4 separate regions of the Homo sapiens genome follow, and all the other regions are linked to region 4. Evidence: fine-mapped expression QTL. A gene starts in region 4. Each other region holds a variant in brackets. All regions are shown on one strand. Distances are between the middles of the regions. Region 1 has its middle 24 kb from the start of SYPL1. Region 2 has its middle 37 kb from the start of SYPL1. Region 3 has its middle 63 kb from the start of SYPL1. Region 4 holds the start of SYPL1 (synaptophysin like 1).

Evidence for each region. PIP is the estimated chance that this variant, and not a neighbour inherited with it, causes the effect. A credible set is the group of variants that fine-mapping cannot tell apart.
Region 1: its variant is the best candidate, but not a certain one, in a credible set for the expression of SYPL1 in left ventricle (GTEx, PIP 0.85).
Region 2: its variant is the best candidate, but not a certain one, in a credible set for the expression of SYPL1 in whole blood (INTERVAL, PIP 0.65).
Region 3: its variant is the best candidate, but not a certain one, in a credible set for the expression of SYPL1 in whole blood (TOPMed, PIP 0.56).

The regions. Positions count from the first base shown.
Region 1 is chr7:106,133,540-106,138,128 of GRCh38, reverse strand. No RefSeq gene overlaps it. Among named protein-coding and RNA genes, the nearest start is that of SYPL1, 24 kb to the right of the region's middle. The variant C/T (reference allele first, on the strand shown) is at 1,705.
Region 2 is chr7:106,072,847-106,077,435 of GRCh38, reverse strand. No RefSeq gene overlaps it. Among named protein-coding and RNA genes, the nearest start is that of SYPL1, 37 kb to the left of the region's middle. The variant A/G (reference allele first, on the strand shown) is at 1,947.
Region 3 is chr7:106,047,225-106,051,813 of GRCh38, reverse strand. No RefSeq gene overlaps it. Among named protein-coding and RNA genes, the nearest start is that of SYPL1, 63 kb to the left of the region's middle. The variant CT/T (reference allele first, on the strand shown) is at 1,774.
Region 4 is chr7:106,109,871-106,114,459 of GRCh38, reverse strand. SYPL1 (synaptophysin like 1) reads left to right here and starts at 2,148. Exons shown (of 5, transcript NM_182715.4): 1 at 2,148-2,320. The coding sequence starts at 2,252. RefSeq lists silencers at 1,741-1,800, 1,881-2,370, 2,381-2,630 and an enhancer at 2,086-2,918.

The DNA.
Region 1 (4,589 bases), 24 kb before region 4:
GAAGTTTTATCTTTTAGGATTTACTTACTGCAGAAGCATTTGTAGCCAACGAGAGAGTCCTGATACTCTCAGTCTGTGTTCCCTGTCTGGAGCAGGCTGCTGCCTTCATAGGGTGTTTCCAGGAGCTTCCCGTACCCAGTTGGCGACCCTGAGCCCTCCACGTGCCTTATGATAGGTCATTGTTAGTTAGTAAGGGATGCCTTGGTGTTAAGCGCTGCCATCCTGCAATGAAATGCAAATGATTCAGGCCAGAGGATCTGTATGAAGTCCCCGATGCCTGAATGTGGGTGAATCCATCCAGCTTTTTTCCCAGTCCCCCAGTAGGCTCCATGTCCCTTCTGACTAATGCATCTGTTATCGTAGTGACTAAAAATATATTTTCCTCACCCATCCTAGGCTCATGGCTGAGGCCCCTCTAATAAAAGATAGATGAACAAGAGAAAAAAATATATAAATTTATTTAAATGTAAGTTTTATGGGTACGGGAGCCTTCATAAGGAAATGAAGACCTGAAGAAACAGTGAAACCTGTTTTTTATAGTAGGTTTCATGAAGAGTGGACAGTCATGGAGAAATATGAGAGGGAAAAGAGTATGATGTAATGGTAATAAGCCGGGGGAACTTAGGCAGGCCTGTTTGTTCAGATTTTTCTCTGTGTCCTATGTCCTCAGAGGTAAGGATGCTCTTTTCCTCCAGATGTGGGGAGGGCACTTCTCACATGAGCACCTGAAGACCTGCTGCAACGGAAAGTCAGAGAGGCCTTCCAGGTTTTAGGAACTGCCTCAGGAAAGAAGCCTGGACAAAGGTCACAGAGACCTTCCTGCTTATGTGTTTTTTTTCCAATTCCTTCAGCTTACACTGTTCAATATGCCGAGGTACCATATTTTGGGGTAGCATGTCTGCACCCCATCATTACTGTTTGTTTTGTTCCGTCAATCCTCATCTGCAGGTCAGTGGTGCTTCCCACTCTTACAAGTCCTGGAGAACCCATTGTTCATTCTCTATGTCCTCCCCACAGCCTGTAGTTTGATTCTTTGCCCTTGAAAGCGGCCTGTGTGCTTCTGCTGTGTTGAATCAAACATTTAGACTAAGCCAGAAACCTTGGAAGAGAAACCAAAGAGACAGCAAGGTCATAGAGTCGCGTGTTTAAGAGCACGGACACCAAACAGGTCTAGATTTAAATGTTATCTCACCACCTCCTAGCTATGACCCTTGGTCGACATACCCCACCTCTCTGAGACTTACCTACCCTCTCTGAGCCTCAGTTTACTCAACTGTAAAATAAGATCAGTTATTAAGCCTGTATCATACAATTGGTGTGAGGATTAAATGGGATGTAATTGGCATCATGTGAATACCCCTCAAACATTGGCCACTATTACCATTGTTGTTGTTAATAAGAGTGAGAGGAGCATGGTGGACAAATGGCAGCTCCTCAGATTCAATGTGAACTGAGGAGCAACAGGACTTAGGATCAAAACACCTGAGCTGAGAGCCATTCCCTCTCTCCGTGAACTTAGGCAAGTCCTGTCATCTCTTTAAGCTTTGTTTCTGCAGTTGTGAAACTGTGATGATAATAATAATATAATGCCTGTTTTGCAGGCTTATTGGGAGGACTAAATGCAATAATGTATGTAAAGCTGCTTTGCAAACTACAAGGAACTATATAATATCAGTGATTATTGCTCACACTCAGTTCTCAACA[C/T]TTTCTGGGACTGGTCCTGGTAAATTGAAAAAGAATGAATGGATTATCTAAGAATAGAAATGGGAAAAAATGAGGCTCAATTCTCGTGCCTTTAATCTGGCAGCTAATAAAGTCCAGGCCAAAGGGTGATCCCCACAGAGATTGAGGATTCTGACTAAAAGGGACCACTGGCACTGGGCTAATGGTGTTCCTAAGTGATCCTTTCCTTTGAGTCAGCAACGGCCTACTGTTTACCTACCATATAATCTCATGTTGCCTCAGGAGGCACCCTAACATTAGTTACCATTATTGAATTTCATAAAAGAGGACCTTCATAAAAGATAGACCAGTATCACAGGGCTAAAGAAAAAGAGAGTGCAAGAAAAATCACGGTATGTGTTACTTCCCTTGAGGCACCTTTATTCTTGGCTCTCGAGATTTTTTTTAATGTTACCTTTTTTCAATGTTGCATTTTGGGTAACACTTTTCTGATATTTTATTGTTTATGAGTTCTCCAACTTCTGCTGGCTTTGCTAACTTATCTTCTATTTTCCATTGCTACTCTAAATAAACATTTCTAATTTGAAAGTTAAAGGCTAAGGAACAGCTTACACCTGCAAGGAGGAGGAGGCTTTCAGGTTCAAAATGTTACTAGCTGTAGGCAGGTCCGGGATGGCTCCTACCAAAGTTGAAGTTCTCCCTAAGTCCTGAGCTACCTAACTCCAGGCTCTCCTCACCTCCATTCCAGGGCTGTCCTCACAGCAGCCACTGACACAAGCTGTCTGCCATTCAAATTAAGACACAAATGACTTAGGACAATTAAAATGCAGTCCTGGCCAGCTGCGGTGGCTCACGCCTGTAATCCCAGCACTTTGGGAGGCAGAGGCAGGTGGATTGCTTGACTCCAGGAGTTCAAGACCAGCCTGGGCAAAATGGCAAAACCCCGTCTCTACTAAAAATACAAAAAATTAGCTGGGCGTGGTGGTGCACACCTGTAGACCCAGCTACTCAGGAGGCTGAGGTGGGAGAATCACCTGAGCCCAGGAGGTTGAGGCTACAGTAAGCAGTGATCGTGCCACTGCACTCCAGTCTGGGCAACAGGAGTGAGAACCTGTCTCAAAAAAATAAATAAAATGTGGTCCTCCGGCATACTGATTTTTTAGTAACAATCAAAATTTAGCCAAAGGAAAGTTCTAGCAGTAGAATTCCAGAATTCTAGAATTGGGCTTTGCTCAAAAGGTCTTATGAGAAAGAGGCAGAAGATAATTTGTACAGTACTACTTTGCACAATAGTACAAAACCTTTCAACAACATTCTACGCCTTTGATTCCTGCCCATTAGAAAGAAATTGGGGCCAACTGAATCTGCATTCACAAGAAGTGAGCCAGAATGGGGAGGCCAAATAAAATTCGTGAAAGCATAAGGAGTACCACTCCTCCAGAATTTTCTACATGCTTGTGGAGGCCATAGGATTAACTCAAAGGGAACAGGGGCAATCTAGCGATCAGGAATCTTCTCTGCCCTTGAAACGGCTCTGAGGAGAAGCGTCTTGGAGTTGGGGCATGTATAAAATATGCATTACTGATATGAAGAGCTCCTTTTGAAAATTTCTCCCCTGCCCCCACCTAACTTCATTTTACCCCAAATTAGAAAACAAATTAAGAACCAGAAAGGAAAATTTTAACTTACTCATCTAAACCTACAAAATTAAAAACTTCACTTACACAATAGGACACTTCATCAGCAAAATAGCAGTGTGAATTTATTTTAGTCCCTGGTAAGTATTCAAATGCAAGATCCTATAGTGGTGTTATGAAATACACGAGCACTTAAACGTATAAGACAGGCAAATCAGGAAATGAATATTCTTATGTGACCAAAGAGTAAAAGTAATCCTGAATTAAAGGGAAGCCTAGCAAGAGCTCTGGCTGACCTAGTCACCCTTTGTGGGGCTCTAGACACATGAGAAACAACCAGGTGAACAGGTGGCATGGTAGCATGCCAGAAGACAGCAGACACATCCCTTAAATAAATTGGAAATCTGCCATCAGTGGCCTTGGGTCTCCATGCCCAACCCCTGACATATTGGGGAAAGATGCCTTTGTCCTGCTGGACCAGCTTTGCCCCTAGCCAAAGTAAATATTAGACAAAAAATTGACGAATATTATTTCAAGGGGACAGCAGCTTATATGCCTGCTTGGAGCACCCATCTTTGTTTGCGATCCCTCTTTAAACCCAGTATCTTTTCAAATCAAGGGCACAGAGGGAAGGTGCAGCCTCAGGACTGACGACCTTAGGAAGGGGGTGCAAAGCGTCTTTCTCCCCTTCATCCTGTAACACAGGGCCCAGTGCCCTTGGGCTGCCCAAGGCCAGGAAATGGGCCAGGTGGGACAAGGAGAGAAGGGGAATTAAGCCAGGTCTGCCCACCCTCAACCCCCAATACTGTCTCAGTTGTGCTTCATGGCAGGGGTAGGACGAAGGGGAGTTACATGTTTTGAGCACTTATTAGATGCCAAAGATTCTGCTGGTTGCATTATGTACATTATCCCTTTCTAATATGAGAAACACTTGGAGGTGGTTATCACTACTCCCACATTCTAGATGAGCCTCCAGGGAAGTTAAGAAATCGATCCAAGTTCACACGGAGATTCAAACGTAGGTCTGACTCCCAAGCTCCTGCTCACATGGCATCCCATAGACCCTCGGCTGCCAGCTCTGACTCAGTTGCCTCCATAGCACCAACTTACTCTGCCTGGGGCCAGCCAGCATCTTGCCAGGGAGGGCTGGGACCATACCCTTGCTGCTGCTGGGCAGCTAGGCAGAAAAGCCACAGGCTTGAGATTCTGGCATCTCTCACCACTTCTAGACTTAAATAAAACACAAGATGTGAGATCTAGTTTCCCGGC
Region 2 (4,589 bases), 37 kb after region 4:
TCACTTTTAGAGAAAAATAAGCTAATATTGTTCTCATCTTAGAACAGGGAGGGATTTCCTAAATAACACACAAAAATATGCTCACCGTAAGAAACAATATTCACAAATTCAGATATGTTAAAATTAGTCACCAAAACATGTCATCAAAAAATATTTTAAAGAAATAGAAGAAAAATTCCAACTGAAGTTATTATAGCACAAAGGATTAGCATGCAGAATAGATAAGGGTTCCTACAAACAAAAAGAGGGAAAAGCTAGCAAAACTGCAAAAGATTCAAACAGACATTTCACAGAAGAAAAAATACATACAGCTAAAAATCATGAAGCACTGTTGAACCTCATTATCAGGGAAATGGAAGTCAAAACCACAGAGATACCATTTTACACCTATTGATAAAAATTTTGTGTGACAATATTGAGTTTGAAGGGAATGTGAATCAATGTGATCACATTCCTGGTAGAAATGTAAATTAATATAACCACTTTGGAAAATAATTTGTCATTACCTTATAAGGTTGTTCATGCCTGAAGACCCAGTAACTCCTCATCTAGTTATATACCCAAGAGAAACATTAGCACCTAATATGAAACAGAAGATTGTTCTAAGCAAAAAAGTTTGTCTTACAGAAAGAAATAGAAACAACTCGGATATCTACTGGCAGGAAAAAATATAAATTTTAGTAGAGTCGCACAAGGGACTATAACACAGAGGTGAAAATTAAGGAACTACAGCTTTACCAACCACATGAATGTCTCAGAAACACTGTTGAGTGAAAAGAACAGGCTAGAGAAGACTATATACAGGGTGATACTACTTTTATCACCTGAGAAGACCCAATTACATATGATTTAGATGTTCAAGCATATTTGGTAAAACTCATCTTTAAAAAGCAAAGGAATGACAAACAACAGATTTAGAAGAGTAACCTATGTGAGAGAGCCAGAGGGCAGAGATAGAGTGGGTGCCCTTCCCTTTCCCTTAGGTCAAGGTAAAATGGTGGTGATATTCTAGTTCTTGGTTGGGCCTTGGTTTTACCAGGTGTTCATTACTAAATGTGATATAAAGTAAAATAAGGCCATTCACGGGCCAATGATGATAGTGTGCCATGAATCAAGAATTTTTATTAATTGCATTCTGTGCATTTGAATTCCATTTTGTGAAAAAACAACAAAACTGTACGAATTGCAAAGAAATGTTCCTGAATCCCACTATCATAATGCAGCAAGCAGTTCCTCTTAAAAGTCTCAGTTAATGACCTGGAGCACGCTTTTATGCTTTCCAGTGAAGTGTGAAGTGTTGCCTCTCTTGTCAACAAACTGTCAGTCAGCACTGCACCACTTCCAGCAGTTCTGAGGTCAGGGGAAAGATTTTGAAAACCTTGGCTGGGAACTTTAAGACAGAAACAAAAAAGGTGTCAGCTAAGGTTTCTTAGGGACAGTTGTTCATTTGTTTATTTTAAAAATCTGGTTCCAAAAAAGTCTCATTTAAATTCTAGGAAAAAAACAAATGAGAGTATTGCAAAGCAAATGTTTATTCTAAGTGCCAGGTCACATTTATATTGTAATGTGTTTTATACTTTTCTTGGGTGTAATTTCTTATTAAACTATTCTTTATAACTTTATAAAACCCACAGTTTCCACATAGCAATGTCGAAAAGCATTTTGATTTAGAAATAGCGAAAAAAAAGTAGTTTGGGAGCTAGAATGAATGTGCATTTAGAGTAGCATCCCAGGCCGGGTACGGTGGCTCACGCCTATAATCCCATCACTTCTGGAGGCCAAGGAGTGGGCATTACTTGAGCCTGGGCAACAAAGTAAGACACTGTCTTTACAAAAAAAAAATCAAAAAATTAAGCAGGTAGTCCGGGCGTGGTGGCTAACGCCTGTAATCCTAGCACTTTGGAGGCCGAGGTGGGCGGCTCACCTGAGGTCAGGAGTTCAAGACC[A/G]ACCTGGCCAACATGGTGAAACCCCATCTCTACTAAAAATATAAAAATTAGCCAGGTGTGGTGGTGGGCACCTGCAATCCCAGCTACTCAGGAGGCTGAGGCCGGAGAATTGCTTGAACCCAGGAGACGGAGGTTGCAGTGAGCCAACGTGGTGCCACTGCACTCCAGCCTGGGCGACAGAGTGAGACTCCGTCTCAAAAAAAAAAAAAAAAAAAAAAATTAGCCAGGTATAGTGGCATGTACCTATAGTCCCAGCTACTCGGGAGACTGAGGCAGGAGGATCACTTGAGTCCAGGAGGTTGATGCTGCAGCAAGCCATGATTGTGCCACTGCACTCCAGCCTGGGTGACAGACTGAGATCCTGTCTCAAAATAAATAAGTAAATCAGTGTTCCCTTAGATGTGAGACAAGCAAATGCACAATGTCCACTGTGTCACGAGCAGGGCTACAGAGATTGGAAAGTGAGGACTTAAGCACTGAAAGAAAACCTGTTTGCTAAGTCTCTGCCGTGCTTCCAAAGCTGAAGTATTCCTGAACTTCAGTTTCCCCATCTGTTGAACTCGGGAACTAAGATATGCCTTCCTTACCTCAGAGTTAGTGTATTGAGAAAGTAGATGTGAGCATGTTAGTGGCCAGGCACATTCTGCCCATTACACAGTAAACCAATCACTGAGATGATGAGTTTGGCAGTGGAGAAAAGATTTTATTCTTGAGGCAGCTAAGTGAGCAGCTAGAGAATGCCTCTCAGGTCTGCCTCCCCGTAGAAGAGGCTTTATGGATATTTATGGGGTAGAGTAGCAAGGCGGTCCGAGGCATGGGGAAAGGTGACTGGAGTAAGGGAAAACAAGGCAATGAGTGACCTGCACAAGTGTAGTCAAGCTTCATGGCTCTTAACAGGATGCACGTTAACAAAATGAGATCATTAGCGTGATCTGAGGGTGGAGTTTTTGGCCCTCCAACATCAAAAGGTCACCCACTGTGAAACGGGAGGTTTCCCTGAACCTCCTTGCAGGACATGCAACAAGGGTGTGGCTCGTCTGTTCAGCCACTGTGTGTGCTCAAACCCTTTACGGGAGAGGGAGCACGCAGGCAGGTGCAGGAATCAGGGTGAGCGCTTTTGGGCACCGGCCCACCAGTGGTGTCTAGGGGTAGGAGCCTGCAACTCCTGAAGCCCCAGTGGATGAGCTACAGTCCTCTTTTAGCTCTGCCATCCGCAGATGGCTTAAATGTTAAACAGCTCAGTGCCGTCTTGGTACCTGGATTCTTGTCCAGTGTCCAGGGAGAATCAGATCACACACAGACTTGAAGGATGGTGAATGTGGGGGTTTTATTGAGTGGTGGAGGTGGCTGTCAGCAGGGAGCCGGAAAGCGGATGGAGTGGGAAAATGACCTTTCCCTGGAGTTTGGCTGTCCAATGGCCTATCTCTCCTCCCTGACTGCCCCAGCCAAACTCCTCTTGATGTTCAGATGCTCCTTCTTTACTCTCCTTCTCTGCCACGCCGTTCTGCAGCTCTTCTGCTCTTCTGTTTGTCTGCTCATCTGCTTGTAGAGCCTGGGGCTTAGGGTTTATATGACTACAGGATAGGGGGCGTTCCAGACCAAAAGGCAACATTTGGGCATGAAAACAGGAATGCTTGTTCTCATTCCAGGCTGCAGGTTTCCAGGCTTTAGGGTGGGGCCTTTGCCAGGGAACCACCCTCTTCTACCCAGTATTTCCCTGTCTCCTGTCCATATCAACTGGACATTCACACAGGTCCAGTTGAAGGGCTGGTGGTCTCAGCTGGTTTGAAGTGGACAAGGACTGACCCCCACTTCCTGAAAAACAACTGTTACCATGGTGAGCAATGCCTTAGAGTTGTTAACTATAAGGAAGCTACTGGCAGATATATATTATTTAGCTATATGGATTTTAAAATCAGCTAGAAGCAAGCGGCTAAAAGCAAGCAAGGCAAGATAAGCTTGGTGGGCCTTATAAGTTTAGTCCTCAGTTTCCATCAACAGCCCATGGTCAAGCAAGAGGCAGCAGGTGGGGTAACAGGAAACCAGTGGGATGCAGACAGTGCGCCCATGCCCATTTTATAGTGCTTGGAGCATGAGTTTACTATTTATAATGACCACGGAGTTTAGAGCTATTTTATTATTGCATTCCTGACAGAAATTATCAAATCATATCTGATGTGCTTGATGTCAAGTCCCTAACCCAGAATGTAAGTCCAAATTTATAACTTCATTATTTGTTTGTTTGTTTGTTTGTTTGTTTTGAGAGGAAGTTTCAGTCTTGTTGCCTAGGCTGGAGTGCAATGGCAAGATCTTAGCTCACTGCAACCTCTGCCTCCTGGATTCAAGCAATTCTCCTGCCTCCGCCTCCTAAGTAGCTGGGATTACAGGCGCAAGCCACCACGCCTGGCTAATTTTTGTATTTTCAGTAGAGACAGGGTTTCACCATGTTAGCCAGGCTGGTCTCAAACTCCTAACATCAGGTGATCCACCCACCTCAGCTTCCCAAAGTGCTGGGATTACAGGCGTGAGCCAATGCACCCGGCTATAACCTCATTATTATGATAAAAAACATACAAACCAGTTTGCAGAAACCTGTTTTATGATGCTCCAATTTATGTGGCAATTTCTAGAAAAAAATTTATG
Region 3 (4,589 bases), 63 kb after region 4:
TAAGGGAAATAAATCAATGTGGAGTGGCTCAGACTAAGGGCCCGCATGTGCACTAGAAGGATGGGGGTGCCAGGAATTCACGCCACATACAAATAGGGAAACCAGCCCCATCAGTGGATTATAGAAGCCCCTTGTATTCAACTATGAAGGGGGCCAGCCAGTAACCTGCTTTCAGGACCCCTCTTTTTGCTGAGAGCTTCCCTTTTTGCTTCATAAATTCTATTCCACTCACTCTTTGATGTCCATGTGCCTAATTTTTCCTGGTCGTGAGACAAGAACCCAGATCTCGCTGAGCTAAGGCGTAAAAATTCCTGCCTCAAGACCACTGTTCAGATGCCCTCATAGTGACCGCCACAGACAGGACACCAGTAAAAGATGAAGAAGGGACAAGCCACACCTCACCTTCATTGTCTGCACCCCCATTGCCTGTGTCTTGTTCACTCAGCACCTTGCAGATGAGAGTGTAAGCCTGCAGTATAAGAGGTACTCAACAAGCGTGTGTTGAAGGAATGAATGGCTGAATCCTAGACAGCAGGGTTGTAGGTAAAAAGGCCCTGAGATGTGAGGGAGCAGAGCACAATTGTGGAACTGAAACTCATTCCCTGTTCTCCCAACTACACTGCCCAGCCTAAGCTTACACATAACATTCATTAAGGGTCTGGTCAGGTTTCCAGGCAAAGTATTCTCCTCCCCACTGCTTTGCCAGGTAGCAAAGTGCTTATTTCCCCAGGCACATGAGCTGCGTGCACATGCTTGGAAGAGCTCACCTTGGCGTGAACAGAGGGACATCTCTATCACAGACTGAGAAATGCCAGTTATTCTCGAAGGCCACTGGCTTCTGAAAGATAGGAAAGTGCACTCCAGCAAGCCAGCAGAATGATTCATTTCCATGGGACTTGGAAAGCAGTAAAGCAGGCAGTGCCGGACTGAGAGCTGAGGTGCCATGTGGGGGAGGGCTGGGCTGGGAGCAGCTATTACCAGGGAAAAATGAGAAGGACTGTCTTGGGAGCAGTGGCAAAGGCAGATCTAGCCCCTTTTCCCGCAGAAGTCCTCCTCCATGAATGTTCTCCCCTTCAAGACTCCTGCTCTGTCTCGGCTTTGTGCCTCTGGGGCTGATGGTGGCATTACGGGTGCTACTTACAGTCACCGACAGTTTACTGTCCTAGAGGTGGTGGTTCCAGAAGGGCCTCTGATCCACGTCACATGGGCAGCTCCCAGGGAGGAACCAGACACCTCATCCCGGTGTCCTGCCAGGCAGGCCCATTCTGGGCTTCCCCCTGTCATGAACCAGGTTTGAGAATTCTATAATCTCACACAGCACCGGTAAAGCAATATGCTTTGGGGGTAGGGCACTCACGGAGCTAAAGGAGAGCAAGAAGGGTGAAGCAAGTGTGCATCCCCCATTCCATAATCATTCCTGGGTGGGGGTGAGCTGGGCCGACAGCACGGGCCTGTATTCTGCTGCAGGACCACACAGGCTACTTGGCTCCAGGCAGAGGAGTTAATACAGACATTGTCTAGATGTTGCAATGCTTCCTGCATGGAAGAGGGATGGGGAGGGTGAAGAGGAATCCTCCAGCCCCACAGAAAAGGGAACGTGGGCGCCCTCTTGCTGGGAAGCAGCCAGGCCCCAGCTGGCTCATGGTCCAAGCAATGCAAGGAGCTCCCAGGGTCCCTCTTGGATGCCCCTACCTTTGCTCTGCTGACCCAAGGAGAGCCACATGCTCCCCAGCATTGAGGCCAGCCGCAGCACAGCTCTTTCAACAGTGGGCC[CT/T]CCATGTGCAAGGTCCCCCCAGTTGTTCACGATTTTGAAGAGTCTGTTGTGTGCTGATTGCCACAGTCACTCCTGTGTAACTCCAACAATGAAATGGGGCTCCCTGCCTATCTACAGGCCACCACTACACCAGCAGGGACCTGTGACCTTGGGGTGAAGCCCGAAAAAGGGATGAGAGACATGGAACTTTCTCTCCCTGCTCCCAGAAAGAACGTTTTTGGTGCAGTGTTTTGTTCTGTTTTATTATTTTGTTTTATTTAGGTGAAACAAACATCTGGTACACAGATCTTCATCCATTTTAAATGCCTCTCTAACCCCTTACGGGTGTTGTAACCCCTCCTGTCTCCCATTCTGCATGTTAATTTGAGTATGAACTTAATGGACGCTAAATAAGTCAATCAAGATGCCATTTTTAGTGCAGTTGAGCAGATGTGTTTCTGGGGAAATGTGTTTGCATGGGCAACGTCACCCAAAAGGCACCTCAGTGAGCACCCTTCCACCCAGGGGAACCCAAAGGGAAGCCACAGCATAGCCAGCCTGGCACAATGCCATGGGGGAGAGCATGGGGCGGCCGCCCTTTCTGGGGGATTTTCTTGTGAAAATGCCACCCCGTCTTCCTTGGGACCTGCCCCTGCTTCGAGTTTCCCCTCCCTTCCTATGGAGCACCTGCCAGACACTGTGCAAAGGCCTCTACCCCCGACTTCAGGTGGTACACAGGCAGCCCAGTGCTGGGAAAACAGTCTGTGCTCAACTATTTTAACAGGTTAGAACCAGAGGTCAGACTTTCAAATTCCACCTAGCCAAGTCCCAGCACTTTCAGGAATTCTGGGTAACGCAAGACAGGCCAAGGAGTGCTTGGCTTAGCCTAGGTGCACTCATCCCCACAGTTGGAGAATTCTTGTCCGAAGTCTGAGATTCCCAGTTTGGGTCTTGGCAAGGACTCGAAGAGACTCCTTCGGGTAGCTGAAAGCTGGAGCTGTCAGTCAGGCTGGTTTTATCCCCTCTGCCCCACCAAGGACCATTCCTGAAGCTGCACTGGTGATGGGGATGTGGGTTGAGGCACAAAGCAGCCTAAATCTACACATGGGGCCTGCAGTGCAGTTGCCTTTCAAGAGAGCACAGGGTCCGCCTGCATTAGCTACAGTGTGCACGGCTAAAAGAACAAGGTTCCAGATCTGGCTCTAGCTCTGCTCCTAATTAGCTGAGTGACCTCACCCTTGCTGGGCTTTCCTTTTTTCATCTGCATAACAAGAGGGTAAAGCAGAAGACCTCAAAGTTCTTCCAGATTTAAAACTCCATGGGGACTTTCCTCCTCTCTAAACTGTGCAACTCAGAATAGTTACAAGGATTAAATTCGATAAGGTATATGCAAAACTGAGAGGCAGAGCCTGGATTTGCCTGGGCCATCAATTCCAGATACTCTCCTAAGGGATTTGCCAGCTCCTTAGATCAATGACTTAACAGAAGCCTGGCTGAGCCCAGATTAGGTCTCCCAAATCCTGGGCTTGGGGGCCTGTACTGTCGAGCCACTTTCTCAGAGCCAGGTTATGTTCAAAGACCAGGGTGAATGGCCAGAAGTGGGGACTCCTCCCCTATGCCCATCCCCTGCTCTGAAAGTCCTGTGCCCAGTGGCATCAAACAGCAACATGTCCTTAATGAAAACCCCAACTAAAGAGTGGTGGCTCATTCATGCCCCTCTGCATTCCAAACACCTTCCACTCAGTGAACGACCAGTCCAGGCTTGCACCTTCCAAGCCTGCTGTTGCCTTGGCCGTCTCTCTGCAACTAGTAACAGTTGGCCTGAAGCACCGAGAGGCAGAAGGAATAGAGCTGGGAGGGAAAACCCATGATGCCCCCCTATGATGTTTCTGCTACCCCCACCTGGAAGGGCTCCAAAGTGTGGGCCACCCAGCAGGTCTCTAGGAAAAAAATCTGATAGCTCCCCAGAGAAATTCCACCTAGCTGGAAAAAACAGTGAGTCTTTCCTGAGTGCTTACTGTGCACGTGATCTCACTTAATGTACACATGCCGCTATGGGGCAGACTTATGGCATCATCAACCCCATTTTACACAGTAGGAAACACAGCTCCAACCTATTCAATAATTTACTCAAGGTCACGCTGTTCGTAATTGCAGAGCCAAAATTTGAGCCCGAGGGCATCAAGTATCAAAGTCTACACTCTTAACCATTAAGCTGTGTCTTCTCCAAAGTGGGAACAGGTCACCTTGGTGTTGTTCACTTAGTCTAGAGACCACTTTTTTGTCTCGAGACACTCATTTGGCACAGAAAATCAAATAAATCACCAGAACCTGATGGATTAAATAAATCAACCCTAAGCAAAGACCCTACAACTTAGGAGAAACAAACTGCTAAGGTTTGCAGAGTTGCATCTCTAGGACTCCAGGAGCCTTTAAATACAAAAAGGAATTAAACTTTAGTGACAACGTTCTAGGCTTTGGCAGAAGTCAGCCCAGGGGAAGATGTAGCTGCCCCAGCTTAATACGCTGTCCCAACCAGGGACAAGGCCAGAACATTCAAACCAGGCAAGGGAGACTTCTAGTACAGCCCCACCCCTATCAGATTTCCTCCTACTGTCAACCCTGGTGGTTAAAGATTTTATTTTATTAAGAAAAGCAGTGTTCCAGTGTCTTTCAGTTCACTAAAAGGCCACACGGTTAATTAATGTCAGAGCTGCCAACCCTCGTACGTGGGGCTGGCCTGAGCCAGGCCTCCCAGGTGGACTCTTCTGGTTATTTGGAAAACACTTTGGCTTGAAGCTGAGGGTTCTGGAGTTGCCGTAGAACACTGGTGCAA
Region 4 (4,589 bases):
AAGAGCTGGGCGCGGTGGCTCACGCCTGTAATCCCAGCACTTTGGGAGGCCGAGGTGGCGGATCATGAGGTCAGGAGTTCAAGACCAACCTGGCCAACATGGTGAAACCCCGTCTCTAATAAAGATACAAAAAAATTAGCCGGACGTGGTGGTACGTGCCTGTAATCCCAGCTACTCGGGAGGCTGAGGCAGGAGAATCGCTTGAACCCGGGGGTGCAGAGGTTGCAGTGAGCTGAGATCACGCCATTGCACTCCAGCCTGGGTGACGGGGCAAGACTCTGTCTCAAAAAAAAAAAATAATAATAATAACATTAAGAGTCTAATTTGAATATTCGTGAATATGAAGCTCAAGCTAAATAGTCTTACTATTCACTACTCCGTCCCCAGGTGCCTACCCAGAAGACCGCAACAGAATGAGAGTAAAAGCTTAGAAAAACGGGCTAAAGAGAACAAAAAGAGAAGTACTGAGAGGAAGATACAGAAACAAAGTAGAAAAAAAAGGAGAGAGAGGAAGCTGGAAGACCTGGAGCACCGCTCATCGTGGTCTCAGACGCACCAGGTAGCAGTGTATGGTCACCTTCCACTCACCTAGCCCTAAGGGGTATCTATGATGCTTTGTTGCTTAGTGGGAGAAATCTGCAACCATCCATTAGGAACCCGCTGCAACCCCCCCACCTCCCGGTTCAAGCGATTCTCCTGCCTCAGCCTCCTGAGTAGCTGGGATGACAGGCGCGTGCTACCACGTCAGGCTAATTTTTTTGGTATCTTTATAAGAGACGGGGTTTCACCATGTTAGCCAGGTTGGTCTTGAACTCCTGACCTCACGATCCGCCGGCCTCGGCCTCCCAAAGTGCTGGGATTACAGGCGTGAGCCACCGCGCCCAGTTCTTAATGTTATTTCAAAATGAGATATGCCATTAGGTGCTCATTGAGCACTGACTGTGCTGGGGACTGAGGAACGGGAGCCAAGATAAACATAAAGATTGTCTCTGTCTGCATAGAAAATGAAATGTATTTTTTGCACTCTCTGGACAGCAAACAAGGAGATAGGTCTCGAAAGAGAAAGGGTTCGCTTACTACAAGGACGTTCAATAACAGTTGTCAACCCTGACGGAATAACCTCAGTGGCAAGTAGCCTGCAAATCATATTCGTGCTTGAAATTCAGGTAAGTCCTTGGAAGCTGGTTTTTCATATACACGAATATGACCACATTCCAGCTGTCCAGGAACTTTCCAGGTACTGAAGAAGCCAGGAAGGAGATCACACTACCTTGGGGCTCCCGTAACTGCGTGCCAAGAGGAAAGTATCACCTAAGCCGAATCTTAAAGGGGTCAGCTTCTTGAAGAAAGATACCAACGATGCCTTAAAAAGAGGACTGTCGACCGACAGCGTAGAAGAGGTGAAAGTGTAGGTCACCGAGGGCCTGTCCGGCCACGCCTTTCCTTTTAGGTATAAACTTACTTCATTTTTCAACCATGGCTGCGATGGTAACTTTGAAAATAAACCTAATTTCCATACGAATATTTGGTGATTCACACTTTCGAGGCACCCCACAGCACGGTAGCCAGAAGTCTGTTGTTTTGCAATTTTAATCAAAGGCCCCTAACACATGCCTTGAAACACAACTTCATCTGTGCCAATACATTATAAATTCATAAAAAAGTTGAGATCTGTTAAGGGAAGGAGAGGTCAGCTTCGGTGTAGTGAGCTCAGCTGTGGTGAGCTCGGGGTCAAGTGAGGGTGTCTCTGAGGCCAGCGCCCCCAAGCTGCGCAGGAGCGGGCGTGGGCGCCCCCGGGTCAGGGCTCTTCGCAGTCGCGCGGGTCCGGAAGCGCGGCGCGGGCCCAACGAGCGCACGCGTACACGCGTGCGCAGGGGAAGACCGAGTGCCAGGGGCTGAACCGCAGGGAAGGGGGCGCGGCGCACGCAGTATGGCGCCCAACATCTACTTGGTTCGCCAGCGGATCAGTCGACTCGGCCAGGTGCGGCCTGAGGAGAAGCCTCCCGGTCTCCGCCCCGGCCCGCCCCTCGCCTCCCCAGCCGCCCCACTCCGTTTCCGCCCCAGAGTCTCAGCCAGCAGCTCAACCGCCGCCGCTCCGCCCCGCCCCGCCCCACGGCCGCCCGGGCCCGCCTCCGAGCCCGGCCAGCGCGCCAGCCCCGCCTGCCCTTCCTCGCCACCGGGCTGCTCTGGTCTCGTCGGTCCCCTCCTCCGCCCCGTCGTCCTGACTCTCTCTCCCTCCTTTCCTCAGAGGATGTCCGGCTTCCAGATCAACCTCAACCCGCTCAAGGAGCCACTCGGCTTCATCAAGGTCCTCGAGTGGGTGAGTGCAGCCCGCGCCGGCCAGGCCCGCCTGCCGCTCGGCGCGGCGCCCTAGGCGGGGAGACGGGGACCTGCGAGCCGGGACGCAGCCCTGCCGCGCGGGCTTTGAGGCCGCCGCCCCGGGACTGGGAGTGGACGGCAGGGAGGGCAGGGAGGCCGCGGCCTGGGCCGCGCGGGGCGGAGACGCCGCGGCGGGCGTCGAATCACGAGCTCCTCGGCCGCCTGGCTCCCAGGGGAGCCACCCTCCCACACCGGAGCTCCCCTCTGGGTGTCCCCGTGGAGTGGGAGTTCAAATTTCCCCTTGGCTCCACTGCCTCCCGCAGAGGAAGGGAAAACTTCCTGCTGCGGTCTAACCGAAACCCGGCGGCCGGCGTCGCGCTCTGCGGAGAGGCTCAGCGGTTACGTCCCTGCCGGTGCCCACTCGAGGTCTAGCTCCCTGGGAAGCCGATTTTGTCTTGTAGACGTGATTTGGCGAGCATTCCGTTCTTAATTTGTTTTTAAGATGGGCTCCGAGTTAAAAATAGTAAAAAAATAAACTGTGGGCCAGGGAAACTAAAGAAAGTCCTTTTAACAAAACGCATCGAGTCAGATCGGTTCACTTAATAACACGTTAGGAATGGACATCGAGTTTGTTTGGGGTATTTCCAAACAACATCCTGTTTAGAAAGTCAGCTTTTAGTCCTTTCCTGAGAACACTCACAATCATTAACATCAAAGAACGCTTATTAATTCGACCTTGGCAATGATCAGTTACTTGGAGGAGTTGGTGAATATACCAGGCACTGCGGGCTTCCTTCAAACTTCGCGGCCCACTACATATTTCTGCAGGCAAGTTGTGTTTATAGACAGCAGCATTTACATCCATAGCTTTTTCGCCCTTTTCCTTAGTGATAGAGTGGTGAAGAAGAATAAGAACTTTCAATTTCCTGTTCTAAATAACCTACCGAGGATGTTTTTAAAAGCAGCGTAGAAACTCAGTTTCTCTGATGGGTACCTAATGTGATTTCCTACTTGGACCATTGTAACCGCGCAAGGGGTTAGGCAATTTCACCATTCACTGAACATTTTGTGTGTTTTCTGAAAACTGAAGTAGTGCTGACTTCACACAAATGACTACTTGAAAGACGCATAAATAAATATACTTGATTTTTTTAAACCTAAGTCCAGATTTAAGTATAAAGAAAACCATGATTAAAGCATTTAAAAATTGCAAGAGGAAAATCTCATTAACGAGGCTAATCAAATATGAACGTTAAGAAAGTCTTATATCTAGATTTAGTCTCATTGAGGATTATAATTAAATGTATAACTAATAATTTAGATTTCCACTTAAATGAAGAGGCAGTTGTTTATATCTGTGCTTATATTTTTTGTCAAGTTTTTAAACAACTGTAGACTTAGCTTTTTCCTTAATATTTCAAGCACTAGTGATAAGTTCATTCGTGTTTTGATGTATTTTGAAAAATATCCCTTTTTAAGCATCTTACAGAAATACTTTCAGTTTGAACAGCTTGTTATTACACAGGAGAGCCTTTTATGAAAAGACTACACATTGTTAATGGTGTGGTAAATATTTGACTATTTTATACCAGATCTGTACTAAACACTAGCATACCACATGAATAAAACATGGTCTTTTTCTCATGATCTATTAAGGATGAAGGACATACAAAATACAAAAATGCCATGTAATAAACTGTGATAAAGGTGTATGCAAAGAATAGTAGAAGAAATGAGGGAGAGAGCATTTGCTTGGAGGAACTAGGGAGGACTTCATAGCTGAGAGAACACTTGAAGGATGGGTACTGGTTCACTTGGGGAGTGGCTTTCTAGGCAGAAGGAATCTTATGTTCAGTGGAAGGAAATGTTGAAGCAGCATAACCCTGTATGAGAACTTAAAAGTAATTGGGGGTTAGTTGGAATATATGCTAGGTTGGAGGGTACGGTTTGAGATTGTTCTGAAAAGATTTCAGAGGTCGGCTGCTTCTGGGGTTAATCTTTGGGAATCTGGGCCCTTTCCTTAGGAAAATGCATATGTGCAGGGTATGGAATATTGGAGTGTTTATTCCATTCAAGCCCAGAATCCCTGCCATAGGGGATGGGAACTTAAAGGCTTTAAACAAGTCAATGATACGACTAATTTTAGGCACTCATAATTCCTCAATCAATCGATTTCTCCCTCCAATTCTGACCTTTCCAATCCATCCCTCTAACTGCCGACAAAATGAAAATTTCTAAAAGGATGAATTGGAAAGGCTAGAATTGGAGGA